2 linked regions of the Homo sapiens genome follow. The protein of the gene in region 2 interacts with the protein of the main gene of each other region in a biochemical or structural test. Each region holds a gene or a part of one and is shown on either strand. Other genes may lie near its edges. The genes, in order: DYNC1I1 and TRIM58.

Evidence for each region.
Region 1: the proteins of TRIM58 (region 2) and DYNC1I1 form a complex in vitro, tested with the Homo sapiens proteins (one study listed by BioGRID).

What each region holds. Positions count from the first base shown.
Region 1 is NC_000007.14:96,089,555-96,098,225, forward strand, and holds part of DYNC1I1 (cytoplasmic dynein 1 intermediate chain 1), read left to right. Parts: intron 1-7,928; coding exon 7,929-8,039; 3' UTR 8,040-8,671. UniProt on the Homo sapiens protein: Acts as one of several non-catalytic accessory components of the cytoplasmic dynein 1 complex that are thought to be involved in linking dynein to cargos and to adapter proteins that regulate dynein function.
Region 2 is NC_000001.11:247,851,590-247,861,168, reverse strand, and holds the start of TRIM58 (E3 ubiquitin-protein ligase TRIM58), read right to left. Parts: upstream 3,983-9,579; 5' UTR 3,923-3,982; coding exon 3,503-3,922; intron 553-3,502; coding exon 457-552; intron 1-456. UniProt on the Homo sapiens protein: E3 ubiquitin ligase induced during late erythropoiesis. Directly binds and ubiquitinates the intermediate chain of the microtubule motor dynein (DYNC1LI1/DYNC1LI2), stimulating the degradation of the dynein holoprotein complex.

The sequences.
Region 1 (8,671 bases), on a different chromosome or scaffold from region 2:
TTCCCCCCAATCTCTTTCCCAGTTTCCCTCCCCTCCTGTGCTTTTAAAAGTGAGCAGTTGGCCACTAGTGTAATAAAAGCATAACCGTTGATTCAAACAGTTGTCAAACCACTGGAAAAATGCTTCCTTTTCATTGTGCTTTTTTTGGACACTATAGATATGGTAAATCATGAACTGCGTTATAAAAATACCTCTTTTGTGCCCAAACATTCAGTAGGAGGGAATGACATTTCTTTTATTACCTTGGTAAATGTTTTTAAGGTGTTTAGCAATAAGCCTTCTTTTTGTCAAAACTGCTTAGACGCAGTGGTTGCTAAGAATTTATTAGAAAACCTATAGTTAATAATATCAAGAAAAGAAGGGATATGTGTTTAGTAGCTAATATGACAGTTGAGCTTGTGTAGCACATGCTTTTGCTTTTTCCTACCATTTTCTTGATCTTTTGTGTTATGGAAAACAAGTTATTCATGTTTAGAAAGTTTATTTTTCATTATTGCCCATCAACCAGCGTTTTTAGCATTTTCTCCATCTTTTGGGCAGAGAAATAGATTGTTCCAAATAGTAGGGAAAAAAATAAGGCGAAAAGATTTCTGAGGAAAGAAGGATGATAAGATTTTAATACAAATGTGAAGAAGACTATTCATCTTTAGGTCTTTGTGAATTAACTCTTTCTTCGGATATTTGTTGTTGTTGTTGTTGTTGTTTTGTTGTTGTTTTTCTTCCACAGGTAAAACCTTCAGAATGTTGTCATGCTTCCTATAATGCTAAATTTTAACATGAAAAATATTTTACATGTTACTTTCTTAAGATAGTGTTTAAGGAGAAGGATATATATTTCCTTCTATATTCGCTGGCTTATTGAAATTGATAGAGACCCATATTTGTTACTATTTACTTGACTTTTATGTCCTACTTTTATTTCTTTCCTTAATTAGGTGGTAATGGATTTTTTAAAAAGTGTTACTGTAAAAAAAAAACGTGGTAAAAATAGTAAAAATAAACCACTCCTTTAAAGATACAAGGGAAGAGACCTTTGGCAGAGAGGTCTGAAGCTTCATGGGTGGATGAGGGTTCCCTTAGATGGGATTTCCAGATGAAAAGAAATTAAAAAACAATCAAATACCATCTGACCACCATAGGTAAGAATGTTGCTTAATTTTACAGAAATTTGTACCTATTGACTGGTAATAGCAGACTGTGCTGTACAGAGACTAATGTAACTCCTACTTTGTCGACTTCTTTGAAACTGCTCTAAATAAGTTACATACCATATATCTTTTTGTGGTAGAACACTGTAGTATATTTACACCCTCTGTATATTGCATTCTAACTTGGAATTCTGGTCCGTGGTTTCATCCATTGTTAGCTGCGATGCTAGACTCTCCCGGGAGTTAAATACAGTGGGGCTGTATTTATGTGAAGCGGGTATGCTTGGTCGTTCAGTGGCTGTTTCATTGCATATTACCTCCCACTTTGCTCCCATCTGTGTGTGTGGTAAAGGGAATTGTCCTAAAAAATACAGGCTTCCTCTGAACACAGACATGTATTTGTATACCAGTAAGTCAACAATCTCCTGAATTTGGGTGCCATTAATAATTGTCCTTTTTAAAAGGCTTTTAGAGCTTAGAGGGGGTTAGCAGTCGTTCTGTGGAAACCGATGTACATTTCCACATTTTCTGTAAATGCATTAAAAAATAATGTGTATTAAAGTGAAAGGAAATCTGTAAGATATCTTTTTAACAGAAAACTTTAATTTTTAGATTAATACAGAGATGAATTGTCGTGTATCTCTTGGAAATCAATGGTTAACATGATAGTCTCACACACTTTTTAAAATTACTTCATCTAATTGAAAAATTACAAAGAGGCTGATGAGCCACACATCCATGGAATATTTATCTTGAAACCTAGAGTCCTACTCACTTAATGTCTTGGCCATACTTCATGTATCTGAGAAACCAACTGAAATCAGAGCGCTTTTCTAACGTCTTAATTATGCAAGATTTTAAAAAAAGAAAACTAAAGTAAGCAATACCTGAGACAGATATTTTTACTATGAAAAATATTGCACTGGGATGGTGAAAGTTACTGCAGATAATGCAGCTATTTAAAATTATTATAGCTGCAATTACTAAAAAATGAGGAAGGTTTGACTGAGAACTATTCAAAATAGTTATTAGCCATGTGATTATAAAAAGGAACACATGAATGATATTTGCATGTTTAACCCTGGTTATAAAAAGTCATTTGATTTTTTTAACAGCATGTACAGCAGTTACAAATCCTTACAACTTTAGGTAAAAATGAAGAATCCCACTGTGGAAAGTGCCACAAGGAAAGAGCTGGATTAGGATGTATTAGTCACATGTGAAAAATAAAAAATATGTATGTGCATGTCTACATATGTGTGTGGATGTGTATAGTTACAATAAATACTTATATTTTAAACTTGATTTTTAAACCAACAATGGAAAGTAGCAACTCTGAAAGAATTTTTCTTGTGATTTGAAAGAACTCTTTCCCTGTCCCCCGTTCATGAAAGTTAGCTATTATTAAAAGCCTGACTACTTAGGAAATTATTTGTGTGGGTATTTCAGACATAAAATGTGATAAAATATAAGGTATACTTCTAAAAAAAAAAGTACAGCTCTAAATAGGTGAAAAGAAGAAAGAGAATATGCAAGGAAGAAAGAAAATAAAAAAATTGGAAGAAAGGAATAAACATTAAGAAGGAAAAACAACATCATGTATTCAGGGTTTATAGTGTACAAGCACTGTGTTAAGCTTATTACATTTTTTTGTTTTATTTAATATACAGTCCTAGAAGATGGATCTTACAATTTGTTTCACACAAATGAGGAAGTAAAGATCAGAAGTGTTAAAACCATGCATTCCCTAAAGACACACAGCAAGTTAATGGCAAATCTGGGAAAGAAACCAGGATCTGGCTGGTGAAGCAGAAAAAAAGTCAACCCTGGCTCCATTCTCAAATGTTATTACTCCACAGTCTGTGCCTCCCTTTAGGTATACAGGACACCCAGGCAAGGCGAGCAAGGGTTAGACTGATAAGTTTTTCAGGGGTGAGGTGGGACCGGGTTCAGAGGCAGCCTCCAGTCCACTCAGGCAGAGAGGAGGGGACTGATCCCTGACATGGTCCGAGAAGTAGTGGGGTAGCCTGGGTGGTGGGGCTCTGGGAGGCTAAAATGATACATTTTCATGAATTTTTCCACAACTTTTGCACTTTTGCTTTTGCTTGTAGACTTTTTGTCTTCCAAGAATCTTAGAAGATTTAAAACAATCTTTACAATCTTTGAGCAGGTGATTCAAAACACATTACCTGCCTGCCCTTCTGTCATGGAATGCTGGCATTTCTCAAAGGGGTGAGTCTTGATTGCCCCACACTAACAGGTGAAGGTTATGTGGTCTTTAGCAAATCATTTAGCTCCCTATACTGTCCTCTCCTACCTGTTAAAGAAAGGTCTACGCCCTGCTTCTTAACATCCTCACATAACAATCAGAATTAATTCCCAAGGAAATTTTTTTAAAAAACAGAAAAATACTGTAAAATTGGTATGCATGCCACAAAACGTATCATTTTGGGGAGCTGTTCAATTTGACTGACAATTTAAAGAAAAAGAATGCATGACAATCCATGATGAACTCATAGTACTTTCTTTACTTTGATTACCTTTCTCATGCTCTCCACATCTCTGTTGATGAATGGGTCAGATATCATCATCCTTATTTTACAATTGAGGCAGTGAGAGGGTAAGTGCCTGACCGTTGCCAGCAACCAAGATAAGAACAGGACTTGAGTCTCCTGTCCAAATCTGAGGTTCATTTTACCTCTTTCTTATGTCCAAATTGCTACCTCAGTAACTACCTTTGCCCTTAGTTTCATTGGCTGTAAAAATGGGATTGTATCATATCTATAAAAGGTGATCTCTTTTAGAGTTAAGATTTTATTATCTCAGGAATCTGAGCCTCAAGTACTTTTGGCATGAAAATGCTTTATATGTTTAGCAAAAAATTAGAAAACAGTCATTGAATCAGGAGATGGACTGGCTGTTGGTGAACTCAGTCGATGAAGCAGTTGGAATATCTGAGTCATCCCTAACCTATGATGCAGACTTCATCAGAGATGAATCTGGAGGCAGAAAATGTTTCCAGATCCACATTGACTTAGAACAATGCTGGGAAATTTTTGAAGTTTTTTTTTTTAATGGTGTTCCCTTAATTGAACTATACATTTTTAATTGGTCAAAATAACTTATGATCTTTTTTCCTATCACAAACATAAATTGTTTGGAAATTATTCTAAGCTATTATTCTCAGAGAAAAAATCCATAGTGATACTCTAGATTTAGCCTTTATGCCTTAATAGAAACTTGAAGAGATGCTGAAGCAATGTTATTAACATGCCATTTGCCTCCCTGTTACTTGCTTGACACACAACAGATATCAGGAAATGTTACAGTTGTCACTGAAGGAAGGTAAATTTTAGGCTATTCACTTTTTAATGTCAGTGAAGTTTTTTTAATGCCAGTATTCACACAGTTTGACCTACAAAAAACATAATTAATTTTTGTCTGTATTTCATAGTCTTCATATTCCAAAATGATTCACTACTGTATCTTTAATTCAAACACAGTGCCTGACATATAAATGGCACTCAATCAATGCTGATTGAATGAGTATTGAATACATTTATATGCAAGGTAGGACATGAGAGCAGTCTGTTCTGTAAGAAACATGAACAAAGATTTTTCCTATTTAATGATTAAGATAGTGTTGGATTAAAAAATCTCCTAGAGAAAATCATAAATGCATTTATGTTCTTGAGCCTACTTTCTAGCCATTTCTAATCAGAGACTACCACGTGAGAAGAGCCAGGAACTGCCAAGGGTAAGAAGGGCAGTTCTGTCCAAACAGATGCCATTTACAGTCATGGAAACAGCAAAGTGAAAAGAGTGGCCCTGGCCCTCTTGTTTGTTAGGACACCTGTTTGGTCTTACCTACAAGTAATTCTAATGCCAAAAATTATTACTTTGGGTGTAGAAACAGCCTGTGAATACACATTCACACTTTCAAGCTAAGATGATACTTAAAGTACTTCCTGATGGTGATATTTAATTCTAAAAATGGGGCAGTCTGCAGTTCACCTTCTAAATCTAACATTACAATCACCTTGGGTTATTTTTACAGTCAACAAGATGAAAAGGATAGTAGGATGAGGTAGATAAATTGATTTCAAGTTTCTAGGAGGAATTGTGTTTTCATCATGTTCTACTCTAGAATTTTTGTGAAGCAAGAAAATAAATATTTCTGTGAAAATTAAGATACCATGAAAAGGAAAAGACTTGGCAAAACAAATATCCCTAAAAAACAAACTTCAAACATTTTGCCAGTCTAAATGAAACTTCAGCAGATCAAAAAGAGGACAAGATGTGTTAGATTACTGTGACACTTTTATGAGGGTGAATCTATATTTCTAAGGGCATGTGTTAGTATTACAGCACTATTACTCCCACCTCCATGAAGAAAGTCACATGTAGTTCACTCGCTGGCTTATGTTTTGTGTGTTTAACAGAAACATTTAAATTTGATAAAACTCATTTTTATGAAGTTATGTAATTTTTGAGATGTGTAATTTTATATAGTGTAAATGAGACTCACTTCTGTTCTAAACTGTGTGTAGACATTTATTCAAACCTTAATGTTCCATAATCTTTACTAGGGCCGTTTCTGAACAGTCTTGCCATGACTACTACATGAAACTATGTAAATACATTTACCTATTTTATTGTTAATAGTCTATAGTTTCTACACATGGCTATCAATAACATATTGCATAGGTCATCATGTATTAACTTAAATTTGTACGATTTTAACTAATAATATAGCTTTATGTTTGGGAACCAAACTCAGCTCTTTATGAGCAAGGTACTGTGTATTATTGAGACCTATTTTTTTCTCCAATATTTAAAGTTATATGAAGTTATGGGGCATTTTAGCTTTAGCTTGATTCTTACTTTATATGGGAAAAAGTTATAAATGTGTTACCATGATTAGGCTTTTGTCTCTTCTTGGGCTTTTGTTTCATGGTTATTTTTGGAAAGGCTTGCTCAGCGGTTGGAAGAAGGAAAAGAAATAGTGGTCCTATTCTTTTACATAAATGTGATACCAACCCTTAGTTGGTTATGGTTTTCGTGAGCTTGTTTGTATTGTACATTTTGGGGGCCTCATTTTCCAGGTGGAGTATTTTCTAAAATTGAAGAAAAAAAATGAAGAATCGTGGAATATAGGAAAAGAGTCCAAAGTAGGGAAAACAGACTGAGCAAAAGGGTATCAGAATCATTCAAGACTATTGTGAACTTGTGTTATTGCCTACAAAGAAATTTGGATTCATTTCAATAATTATAGTAGCATTTAACCATTCAGAAACTCATTCATGTGACTAAGTAAGAATTCTTATTGGTACTGCACTTCGCAAAATAAGTCAGAGAACTTACTTTCCTTGCCTCTATATCATTTCCAGAATTATATTCTTGAAACATTTAGCCTTAATACCAGAACACTAATTTAAGGATATACTTTGCACAATGAAGTTGCCACTTTCCAATAAGTTTTCTTGGACAGATAGTATTTGAGAATATTATCCTTGTAATAAAAATTTTAAGTTCTAATCATTTGGCTCTGTGTGGTGGGAAATTTTCCAGCTGTAGAAGCAATCTCAAAGCTTAGGTTTATTTGCTTCCTCTTTTTTCATTAAAAAATATATTAATTGAGATGGCTGTATGTTCTTAATGTTTATGGAATATGTGGATAGTGTAGTGTAGCACTAGTACCTATAGGTAAATTACACTATATTATAGCGTAAAACTCCAAGAAAATGCGTGTAAAATCTAAATGAATTTTATTCTGTGTGAAAAGCATTCAGACTTCTACTAAATCCTGTTTCTCATCCTCAAATTTTTTTTTCTATCCCAGATACTTGCATTATATTTTTAAGCAATTTATTTTTGGATGCTATGTGGAGAAATCATTATCCTTTAAAACGACTAACAAAAATTCATACATTCAGTTTGCATTGGAGGAGGCGTTAATTTCCTCCTCACTGAATTGTACACAGAAGATGTTTTGGAAATTTTATAAATCCCCCTTTTTGATGAATCAGTATAGCATACTGGCTAAGGATGCTCATACTGGAACCAGATTCCATTGACACTTATATTTGCTTGCTATGCAACCTTGGTAAGATTATTTAATCTTTCTGTGCCTCTAATATAGGAATGTGAGGCACAATAGGATTATTATGACGAATGAGTTAATGCATGTAATGTACTTAGAACAGAACTCTTGGTAAATAATAGCTACTATTACTACTATTCATAGTTATCATCATATAAATCTTACTGGAAAGGCCCAAGTACTATTTCATAGGAGGAATATTTCTTTGTATATATAAGCTATTCTTTTGCCCTTCATACTGCCCCATCAGCAACACTTTAGAAAAAGGATTAATACCATTGACTAGGAATAAAATATACAGTTATTTGAAAATCTTGGTCATTATATGCAGTTTTTATTTGCGTGTTCACTGTAAGTCTGGTCTTCTTATGAAAAAAATTTCATTACTAAAAGCACTTTGATGTGGCTACTGTAATTGTATAGTTTGCATAGGTTTTTAAAGTTTTATAAATTATGTGAGTGCTTTTGCTTCCAAGAGTGACATGGTTCTCTTGTTAGTTTAAGAGCAACACCTCAGGCCCTGCTTGATCCAAAGAAGAATGTTTGATTTCCTTTACATTCCAAGGGAAACATCTGCTTTGGAGGGTGTGGGGGCAAAGGGACAGTCATTCAGGCTTCAAGGCTTTCAGACATGAAAGATATCTTGTTCATCATTTCTCCATTGATTTGCTTTGCAGCTTGCAGTTCCCCACAATGATGAATGGACCCGATTTGCCAGGACCCTTGTGGAAATTCGTGCTAACAGAGCTGATAGCGAGGAGGAAGGCACTGTTGAGTTATCTGCCTAGTGGAAATGAGCCACCCCCACTGCAGCCCCCACCTTTGTGTCCTAGAGCTCAGCGTCTGCAGTCAAGTCTCTTGTATTCGGTGTCCATTCAGTATCAGTATTGCTGTGATATTTTGGGTGCCATATTGTGCCAGCTTTGCTCCAAGTATTCTAAATGTGTCCCATCATGCTTTCCACTGACCCAAAATTCACCACAGCATTTCTATCTTTATATTTCTGTCTCAAAAATGAAGAGAAGGGGGTTATGGGTTAAGTTGCTGCCTTTTAACTACTTTGTAGCTGTATTTAATAGCTGGAAACCTCTGGTTAAATTTGTGCTTACATGCACTCCTGGCATAGTCCTATTAAATCCATATGAAGCCAGATATGATTGGGTGCAGATGTGGTGTTCCTCATATTATGGTACAGGGCCAAAGACTTGAGACGTGGTGTTTTACATGGTGACTCACATTATGAATGGATTTACTAGAAGAACATTGCTGCTCCTTATTTATTGTAGTGTGCTGCATGGAACGTATTTATTTGAAAGCATTAAAATAAATGATCCTAGAGCATGTGCATAATGAGAGGACTGTATTCTCTCTGCTGCTGTTGAGGTTATATTAAGTTCCACATAGCAATTACAGTATGCCA
Region 2 (9,579 bases):
GGAATATGTGTATGTATAGATGATAGAAAAAAAAGGCTAAACGTTCAGATTATTACCCTGTATATAAGATGATCACCTTGGGCTACACTTCTTCTGTTACAAAGTTGTGAAATATTCATTATTTCATTCACCTAACAAATATTTTCAAACTGGTAGCAACAGTATAAGATGCTATTCTAGGTGACAGGGATACAGCAGTGGGTTTTACAGGAAGATCAAACTAGCAAAGCTATTTAATTATAATTTGGATTGGGTGATGGCAGTAGAGACAAAAAGAACAAAAATGAACCATATCATTTGAGGGGACGGGATGACCCAGGATGGCTCTGAGGTGCTCTTGGGCATATATGGAGATGGAACAAAAGTGCTGGAGAATGGAAGATGGTAGAAGAATTACTGACCCGAATCTGGATCCTTCAAACAGGCAAGCCTCCTAAAGCCCCAACATGGTCTTACCTTCCAAATGACAGTCTTTTTCCCCACGTTGGCCTCCTGAGTCAAGGCGTCCTCCAACTCTTTCCTCATAAGTTCCAGAGCCATCTGGAGCTTTACCTGTTTGGGAACATTTCAGCTGTTACAGATGCCCTCAATCTGTACCTAACGTCACACAGATGTGTGAGGAAATACAAAAGTCAACTTAAACAGTCCCTAGAAAGCACATAAAAATGTTCAATATCATTAAAAACTAAACATAAATGTACTTAAGTTTTAGTGTCAGGGTCTCGCTCTGTCACTCAGGTTGTGCAGTGTTGCGATCATGGCTCACTGCAGCCTCAAACTCCTGGGATCAAATGATCCTCCCACCTCAGCCTCCCAAGCAGCTAGGACTCCAGGCACACATCATTACATTCAGCTAATTTTGTTTTCTGTAGAGATGGGGTCTTACTATATTGCCCAGGCTGGTGTCAAACTGCTGGCCTCCAGAGAGTCTCCCATCTTGGCCTTCCAAAGTGCTGGGATTATAGGCATGAGCCACTGGGCCTAGCTCCTTAAATGTATTTTAATACCAGATACAATCAAATATTTATCTAAAAGTATGCTCACTGCATTGTTATATACGATAGCATAACTAAACTAAAACATTAAAGATAGGGGAGAAAAAAATTATATTAACTGGATAGAATTAAAATAAGATGTTACAGAATGTTTAATGACTAGAAATACAATGATAATGTCCAATGAATAAAAATATTTTACAAAACAACATGAATTTTGAAAAAAAATGTGCTGGTAATGAATATATTAAAACTGGGCTGATGTAAATGAGAATGATATTAGATAAAATGTCATCTATTGGTGTTTGGATGAAGAGTGATGCTATTATATCTCTATATTTCATATATTTCTCTATATAACTATATTTATACATTTCTCTATATTTATATATTTCTCTATATAACTGTATTCTGTATTTCTCTATATAACTTCAACTTCTTGAAGTTATTGGTTACTTTATGATAAAGCATGGGTTTATTATTGTAGTATTAGTAGTATTATTAGGTCAGAAGGAACTTGGTAGGTTATCATATTTTATATGAAAAAACACAGTATGTTGTAAACCTTGCAATGAGTAAAAATACAATGAGAACTAAATCTTCCTTCAATGATAGGGCGCTCACTAGAGGTAAATATGTGTATTTTAAATACTCACAAAGATACATACATAAACAGGATTTTAATTAAAAAATTATATTCCCAAAGTTACTCAATAAATCCTACATACACATCAATTGTTTTTAAAAGGAGAATATTATAATTGTTATATATAAAATAACAGTAGAATTCATGATACCATTTGACTCAGTGGGGAAAGTGGCATGTGTTTTGGTGTTTACAAAGAACGGAGCACTTTGACACTTGTAGATAAAGAAAAGCTCCCTCAGGCCAAAGAAACTGTCAGCAAAAGCAAGGAGATGTAGCACAGTTAGGAAAACAGTGATTCGGCTAAATTTGCTGGGTTTCCTGGCTGGTTAAGACAAGAGAGCTATGGAAACATAACTTAGGGCCCTAGAAAGCTTTCACTGAGAGGCTCAGGAGTTTAGATAATATTTATTTGGTATTTAACCGAAGAACTACTGAAAATATGGAGAACACCTTTAGAAATATTACACTAGAGGCTGGGCTGCCTGTAACACCAGCACTTTGGGAGGCCACGGCGGATGGATCACAAGGTCAGGAGTTCAAGACCAGCCTGGCCAACACAGTGAAACCCCGTCTCTACTAAAAATACAAAAATTAGCCGGGTGTGGTGACGCATACCTGTAATCCCAGCTACCCGGGAGGCTGAGGCAGGAGAATTGCTTGCACCAGGACCCGGGAGACGGAGGTTGCAATGAGCCGAGATTGCGCCACTGCCCTCCAGCCTGAGCTACAGAACTAGACTCCGTCTCAAAAAAAAAAAAAAAAAAAAAAAAAAGTTACTACCAATCCTCTTTCTGGACTTTTTTTAAAAAGGCAAGAACATTCCAGAAAAGTTTAGCTAGAAATTACCTAGTACTAGTACCTACATCTCGCAAATGACAACGAAAATCAAGAAGAAATACCAAGAGAGATATTGGTAGAGAAGGAAGGGGAAAATATCCTAAACCTTAATTTAAAACAAACAAAATAAATAAATAAAAATTTTAAGAAAGTATTTGCAATGCACTACAGCGCGACTGACAGTCCTTTGGTTAAATCTGTCAGTAAAGACGACTTAGACCTCCTCTGTGCTGGCAGTTGTTCTACATGCTGGGATTCAAGTGTGTTCAGAAAACATCCAAGAACTTTTGAAGGGCACCAGTAGGAAGAAATCGACACACAATTTCACAGATGCCACTCTGGGGACCAAATACTCCCATTTTGTTTTTCTTCTTTCTCTTTGAAGCTTCCCGGGCTACACCCCAAATGAAGCACCTCTTCATTGAGGATGTTCGAATCCTAAGTCCCCAAATCCCTGCTGATGGAGAGCCACCCGCTCCTACTTCAGGAGGCACGTGCACCTGAGCTTTGGAGGGGTCGGAACCCGTACCCAGCTCGACACTCTTCTTAACAACGCCCAAACCCGAGGGTTGCTTTGCTGACAACACTCATTTAATGTAAACACTGTGCAAAAGCAAAGCATTGCACAAATGAGAATTATTATGGCAAGTTTACGATATAGACGTACAATTGTTACCAAGAATGAACTGGACCACACAGCCCTCCCGACCAGAGCCCAGCTGAGGGACCAGACTATCCGCATCGGGAGAAACCAGCCCAGCGCGAGTTCGACGACAGGAGAGTGCTTGGGGGAGGGGCGGACGGTGTAAAATAATGGGTGTGTGTCGCAAAGGGGGTTACCACAGCCAAGGCAAAGAGACCCACACTGAGTGAGCCGCGTGGGCGGGGGGGACGGCGCGCGGTGGGGGGAGCGGCCGTGGGAGCCGCTCAGGAGACGGGTGGCCTCGGCGGCTCCGCTCCGGACTGTCGCCCGCTTCCCGGTCACCGCAGCGCCCGCAGCCCCCGCCGGGGGGCGCCTCACCTGGTAGCTGCCGGCGGCCTCCTGCAGCGGCGCCGTGCGGTGCGTCCTGTGCTCGGGGCCGGCGTCGCACACCCAGCACAGCGCCGCCTCGTCCTCCTCGCAGAAGCGGCTCAGGTCCTCGCCGTGCCGCGCGCATCGCCGCGCCCCGGGCCCCGCGCCCAACCCCAGCCGCCGCACGCTCTCCACCAGGCCCGCCAGCTGCCGGTTGGGGCGAAAGCCCGAGGGCCGGAAGGGGCCCCGGCACTGCGGACAGGCGTAGACGCCGCCCTGCGCGCCGTCCGACTTCTCGCAGAACTCGGAGATGCACCTGAGGCAGAAGCTGTGGCCGCAGTCCACGCTGACCGGCTCCTGCAGGAAATCCAGGCACACCGGGCACCGCGCATCCTCGCGCAGCCGCTCCCCGGGCGGCGCCCAGGCCATGACCCGCCTCCCGGAGGGCTGCGCTCCCGGCCGCCCGCACCGTCTCCCCTCGCGGTCTGCACAGGGGGAGGAGCCCACGCCCCAGGAAAGCAGGCGCCGACGGGTGGTGTCCGCTGGCTTCAGTTCAAGAGCTCAGACGAGCCACACCCGGTGAAAAGCCACCACTCAGGCGCTCCCTATGTCGGGGATAAAATTAACGTTGTGGTTCCCCGCCCCCGTCACACACACACCCAGGAAACTGGGCATTTCTAACTGGAATCCCTCCTCATATGCTATTTTCACTGGCAGTAGATCTGGAGAATTGCTAAATTCCCTCCTTCCTTCCATCTTTGTTTGTTTGTTTTTGTTTTTGTTTTTTTGAGAGGGAGTCTCGCTCTGTCGCCCAGGCTGGAGTGCGGTGGCGCGATCTCGGCTCACTGCAGCCTCCGCCTCCCGGGTTCAAGCGATTCTCCTGCCTCAGCCTCGCAAGCAGCAGGGATTACAGGCGCCCGCCACCATGCCCGGCTAATTTTTGTATTTTTAGTAGAGACGGGGTTTCACCATTTTGGTCAGCCTGGTCTTGAACTCGTGACCTCAGGTGATCTGCCCGCCTCGACCTCCCAGAGTGCTGGGATTACAGGCGCGAGCCACCGCGCCCAGCCTCCATCATCATTATATAGATTTAGTGCAGATTTCTGGGGTACCAGTGCAGTTTTGTTACATGGAGACACTGCATAAAGTCTAGGCTTTAGCGCAGGCATCGCTGTGATAGCGTAAATTGTTCTCATTAGGTGATCTCTCATCCCTCGCCCGCCTTCCACCCTCCGAGCCCCTTCCATTGTTACTGAGCTACTCCATGGTCCTCTCATGCCATAATCGTTTCTTAAAAGGCTTTCCCCCTTTATATGGCATAATCAATTTTTAAATGTTTTTTTCAAACTTCATTTTTTTCTCTTGCACTAATTACCTCTTGATAAAGAAATGAGACACCGCCTGACACGGGAAGATGCCTGCATAGGTGTGTGTAACTATAGGTTTACAGCCCAGCCAAAAATAATTCTAAATATTTAAATAAATATCTGGCCTAGTTCAATGAGGATCCTACAAGGAATACACACATGTTGTAGGATTGTTGCAAAGCCAGTCTTGGAGATGACAAAGCTATAGAGATACTCATCAGAGGAATAATTCAAGCTTAGCCTCTCAGTGGTGTACCTGTCAGATGGGGGAGGCTGAGACAGGAGCAAAATGATTTGACAGAGTATGTTACTTCATCCAGTGGAAGGCTGAATCAGGATAAAGTACATTAAAGTCTCTAATGTCGTCCAGAAAGTCGACAAGTCTGAGGCAGTGTCTGCATCTGTGCAAAATAACTTTAGTATGGTCGAGTTTGAAGTGATGGTGGGGTGTACCTGTGGCAAATCAATCTGTCCCTGAGCACACATTGTGTCTGTTTGTAGCCAGGAGTCTCAGACATTGCACCGGGTACTGAAAATACACATGTTAAGGAAAAGAGGTGGGACCCCATTTCTCCAGGAGCCTTAAGATCAACTAGAAGAGGTGGATATGAAATCATGCAAACATATAATTACAAACCAATAACTGCAAGGAAGGTCGCTCACCAGTCCTGCAGGAATATAACAGAGGACTCTGAATGAGGCTGCAGGGTCGGGGGCAGACACCTGAGGTCTCTGAGCAAACCTCTGATAGGTGAACACAAGCTGGCCAGCGGGAAGGGGGGCTCCGCAAGGCCGTGCCCCCAGAAGCCATGAAAGGTACAAGGTAAACTTCAGCAGGTGGGAGCAAGACATACCCAGATGACAGTGAGAAGCCAGGCAGGCTGGCAAGCTGGGCCAGAATATGGTGGCAGCAGATAAGGCTGCAGCAAGAGGCGGGGCCAGATGACTCAGGTCCTTGGGGATCCTCTGGGGTTTGTGGGTCTTCATTATAAGGACAAACTCTTGGGCTGGATCTCTGGCGACAGGCAGAGCAGAGGATCTTGAGGCCTAAAGGTTAAGTGCGCAATTAAAGCGAATAGATTCTTGGAGAACACACATGGATCTGTATTAGCAAAACACGAAAGATGTGGCATTAGAGAAAAAAGCTAAAGAGCAGAAGGCTTAGCAAAGAAAAACAGACTCTGGCTCCGGACTAAGGGCTGTGGCACTTGCTGAGAAGCTTGAGGCAAGCTGTGCCGCGTTTCTGCCCTGCATTTCTTCTGACGTGCAGTGAAGAGGTGTTAGTGTCATTCATATAAGGCCTTTCAGAGTATTAAACGAGCTAATAGATAGTAGACACTTAATATAGGTCCTGGCATGTTGGAAATACACACACACACACACACACACACACACACACACGTATATATATTGAGACAGGGTCTTGCTCTGCTGCCCAGGCTATAGTGTAGTGCCACAACCTGACTCACTGTAGCCTCTACCTTTCAGGCTCAAGTGATCTTCTCACCTCAGCCTCCCAAGTACCTGCGACTACAGGTGCCCGCCACCACGCCCAGCTAATTTTTGTATTTTTTGTAGAGACAGAGTTTCGCCCTGTTGCCCAGGCTGGTCTCAAACTCCTGGGTTCAAACAATCTCCCCACCTTGGCCTCCCAAAGTGCTGGGATTACAAGTGTGAGCCACCTCGCCCGGCCATGTAGCAAATATATTTAATTGAAGAAAAGGAAATGAAATAGTGAAGTGAATGGAAGGATGGTGAGTCAAAAGGTAAGCTACATTAGGAAGAGAGATTTTTTTCTATTTTGTTCACTGCTCTATCTATCCCCAGGACCTTGAAGAGTAACTGGCACAAATGGACACTCCACACATACTAACTGATTAAACAAGTTAATAAGTAAATGAACAGAATTAGGACAGTTTATCATAGGAGCTAATGAAAGAGGGAAGTTCAAAGATGATTATATTATGTCAAATGTCAAATCCATGTTTTTCTGCATTTTACATATATGATCTTGCCCTGGCTCTCCATAACTCTGGCAGATGCTGGAGCATTTTTCTATTTTGCAGGCATAACGAGACACAGTAAAACAATCCATTTACTCAAATATATGGGCCAGTTGATAACTAGGCTCACTTAAATTCAGATTTCCTAGTGCCTGTGATCCTAAGGAAAGGCCCCTGGCTTCTGACGTTGGGGGTCACTGTGGTTTTCAGTAGGGTGTGACGGAGTGGGCGAGCTCACTTCTTCCCCTGCTGGTCCTAGAGTTGCTGAGCTTAAACTGTTTTGTCTCTGACACTGGTTGACTAGGAATGACATCGGTACCATTGTTCTTAGAAACACACATTTCCCTTACAGCACGTCCATGCAGGTAAGTTGTGGACTGGATTATATCCAGATGTCATTGTATTTACAAATGCTATGTGGAGTGCCTCGCCAGGCAGTTTCTGGTTTAATGGGAATACTCTAACTTAAATTTGTATTTTCTCATGAGCTTTCTTTTGGCGTAAATAAAGCACCTCTTGGTTTATGCCAATACGACCAAATTCTAATGCACCCCACTCCTTAATTTATAGGCTAACTCCACCCTGTGACTCATTTACAGGTTGCAGAGTTGCAAATCTTTTAGCTAATACCACCTGCAACCATCCTCCTTCTCTAATATTCCTCTTCAGTTGTGTCCTGCCTTCTGTGACATCTTTAAAATATGGGATCTGCCGTCATCTGACCATTATTCCTCCCTGCTCTTTTTTGTAATTTCTTTGGTATCATGGCTTTGGGCTCCTGAAACCATTTCTTCAGGACAGCAATATTTTCTTCCCTACTTTGAACCCTTTTCACAGAGTTTCTCAGCTCTCCATGGCCAAACCCTTTGCCTCAGCTTTGGGGATTCACAATCTCCTAGCTCCATAGCCCCCAAATCAGCCCAATTTGTTACCAAAAACCAGGAGTTCGGTCTAGGTCCTGCTGCTCTCCACACAGAAAGCCAATCACTGAGACAACGATTATTGCCAAAGAAGAAGCTTTTAATCAGGTGCTGCAGCAGAGGAGATAGGAGCTCAGTTTCAAATCCATCTCCCTGACTGACTAAAATTAGAGGCTTATATAGAGGCAGGGAAGAAATAGCACACTGTGTGGAAAAAGAGGAACTAGGGAGGGGTAAGGAAGCAATCATGTTGAATAAGCGGACTGGACTGGCATCTCATTAACTGGTTGAGATGACCTGGGGTGATCCGGTAAGTTTCAGTTCTTTGTTACTTTACTTTTCAAGAGGGCTGGTGGTCCTTTCCTGAGGAAGGAACTCAGATAAAACAAAAGTAAGTTTCAAGCTCTAAGACCAGAAGGGTCAAATTCTCTCTCTCTCTCTCTCTCTCTCTCTCTCTCTCTCTCTCTGTGTGTGTGTGTGTGTGTGTGTGTGTGTGTGTGTCTATAGGACTATTGGGTTGGCAAATTCACAATGCCAAAAATAAAAGCACAGCCCTCAAGACTAGCAGCCGCTGACTCAGCATTTCCTCCCTGCTTCTGGCTTTAAAAGGACCTCATTCACGCAACTGAACCCTGCATTTTTTTCTCTTTTTCTTTTTTCTTTTTTTCTTTTTTTTTTTTTTTTTTTTTTTTTGAGAGAGTCTTGCTCTGTCACCCAGGCTGGAGTGCAATGGTACGACCTCGGCTCACTGCAACCTCTGCCTCCCGGGTTCAAGCGATTCTCCTGCCTCAGCCTCCTGAGTAGCTGGGATTACAGACACATGCCATCACGCCTGGCTGATTTTGTATTTTTAGTATGACTGGATGTGGCTCCCACTCAGGTGGCAATGCAGGGAAAGAGATCATGGCTAATTTTGTATGCTATGCCAAACAGTTTAGTCTTTATTGGTAGGCAATGGATATCAATGACACTCACAATTATCACCACTGGATGTGGTATATAGACCCTACTTTTCTCTTTCCCAGTGGTTGCCAGCATTGACATCCTGTGGATTACTGTGAATTAGAGGCTTTGTCTGTCCGAATGATGCTCTAGGGTGGCTGGGGTGGTTGGAATGGGACAGCAAAGTTGTGGGGTTTTCTGATAGCCTTTGGAGGCAGCCCAGATCCAACTGTATTTGCATAGATCGCATTGTTCCAGCTGATAAATGCACAAACACCCATAGTAGGCCTCTCTAGCCACTTCTCCAAGGAAAGCCCACAAAAGCTCTCCAATGAGTTTGAAGTGATCCCTCAACACCCCCTTGCTATCTCTATTCTGTGTAAAATGAGGAGGAGAAAGGCACTGAGGCATTTTTCCAGATATACAGACTTCTGCAATGAATCTGCAATGAATGGGCTAATATGGATCCAGTGTTCCATATTGTGTTAAATCCGTTTGTGTAAATCCTATTGTGTAAATCAGTTTGATACAAAAAATACGTATTGGCTCTTCATAGTTATATGACATGCGTTAAGAATGTCTGTGAATTCAAGAATCTTCCGCAAACACACTCCATAGCACAAGAAGACAAAATGCCATGAGTTATAAAAGAGTATTTTCTCCTGCTTTATATAAGATTTAAAGAAAGATAAGAAGCATATATATTTGATTAATTGATGGCAGGGTAGGAAGAAAAGCAGGAACAAATCTTCCTAGATGAAAATGCTGATAAGAAGTACCAATCCACATGGCTCCATCTCCAACACTCTCCCAGGGCCCTTGCGGAACGGCTTTCCTTGTCAACTCCCTCTCCC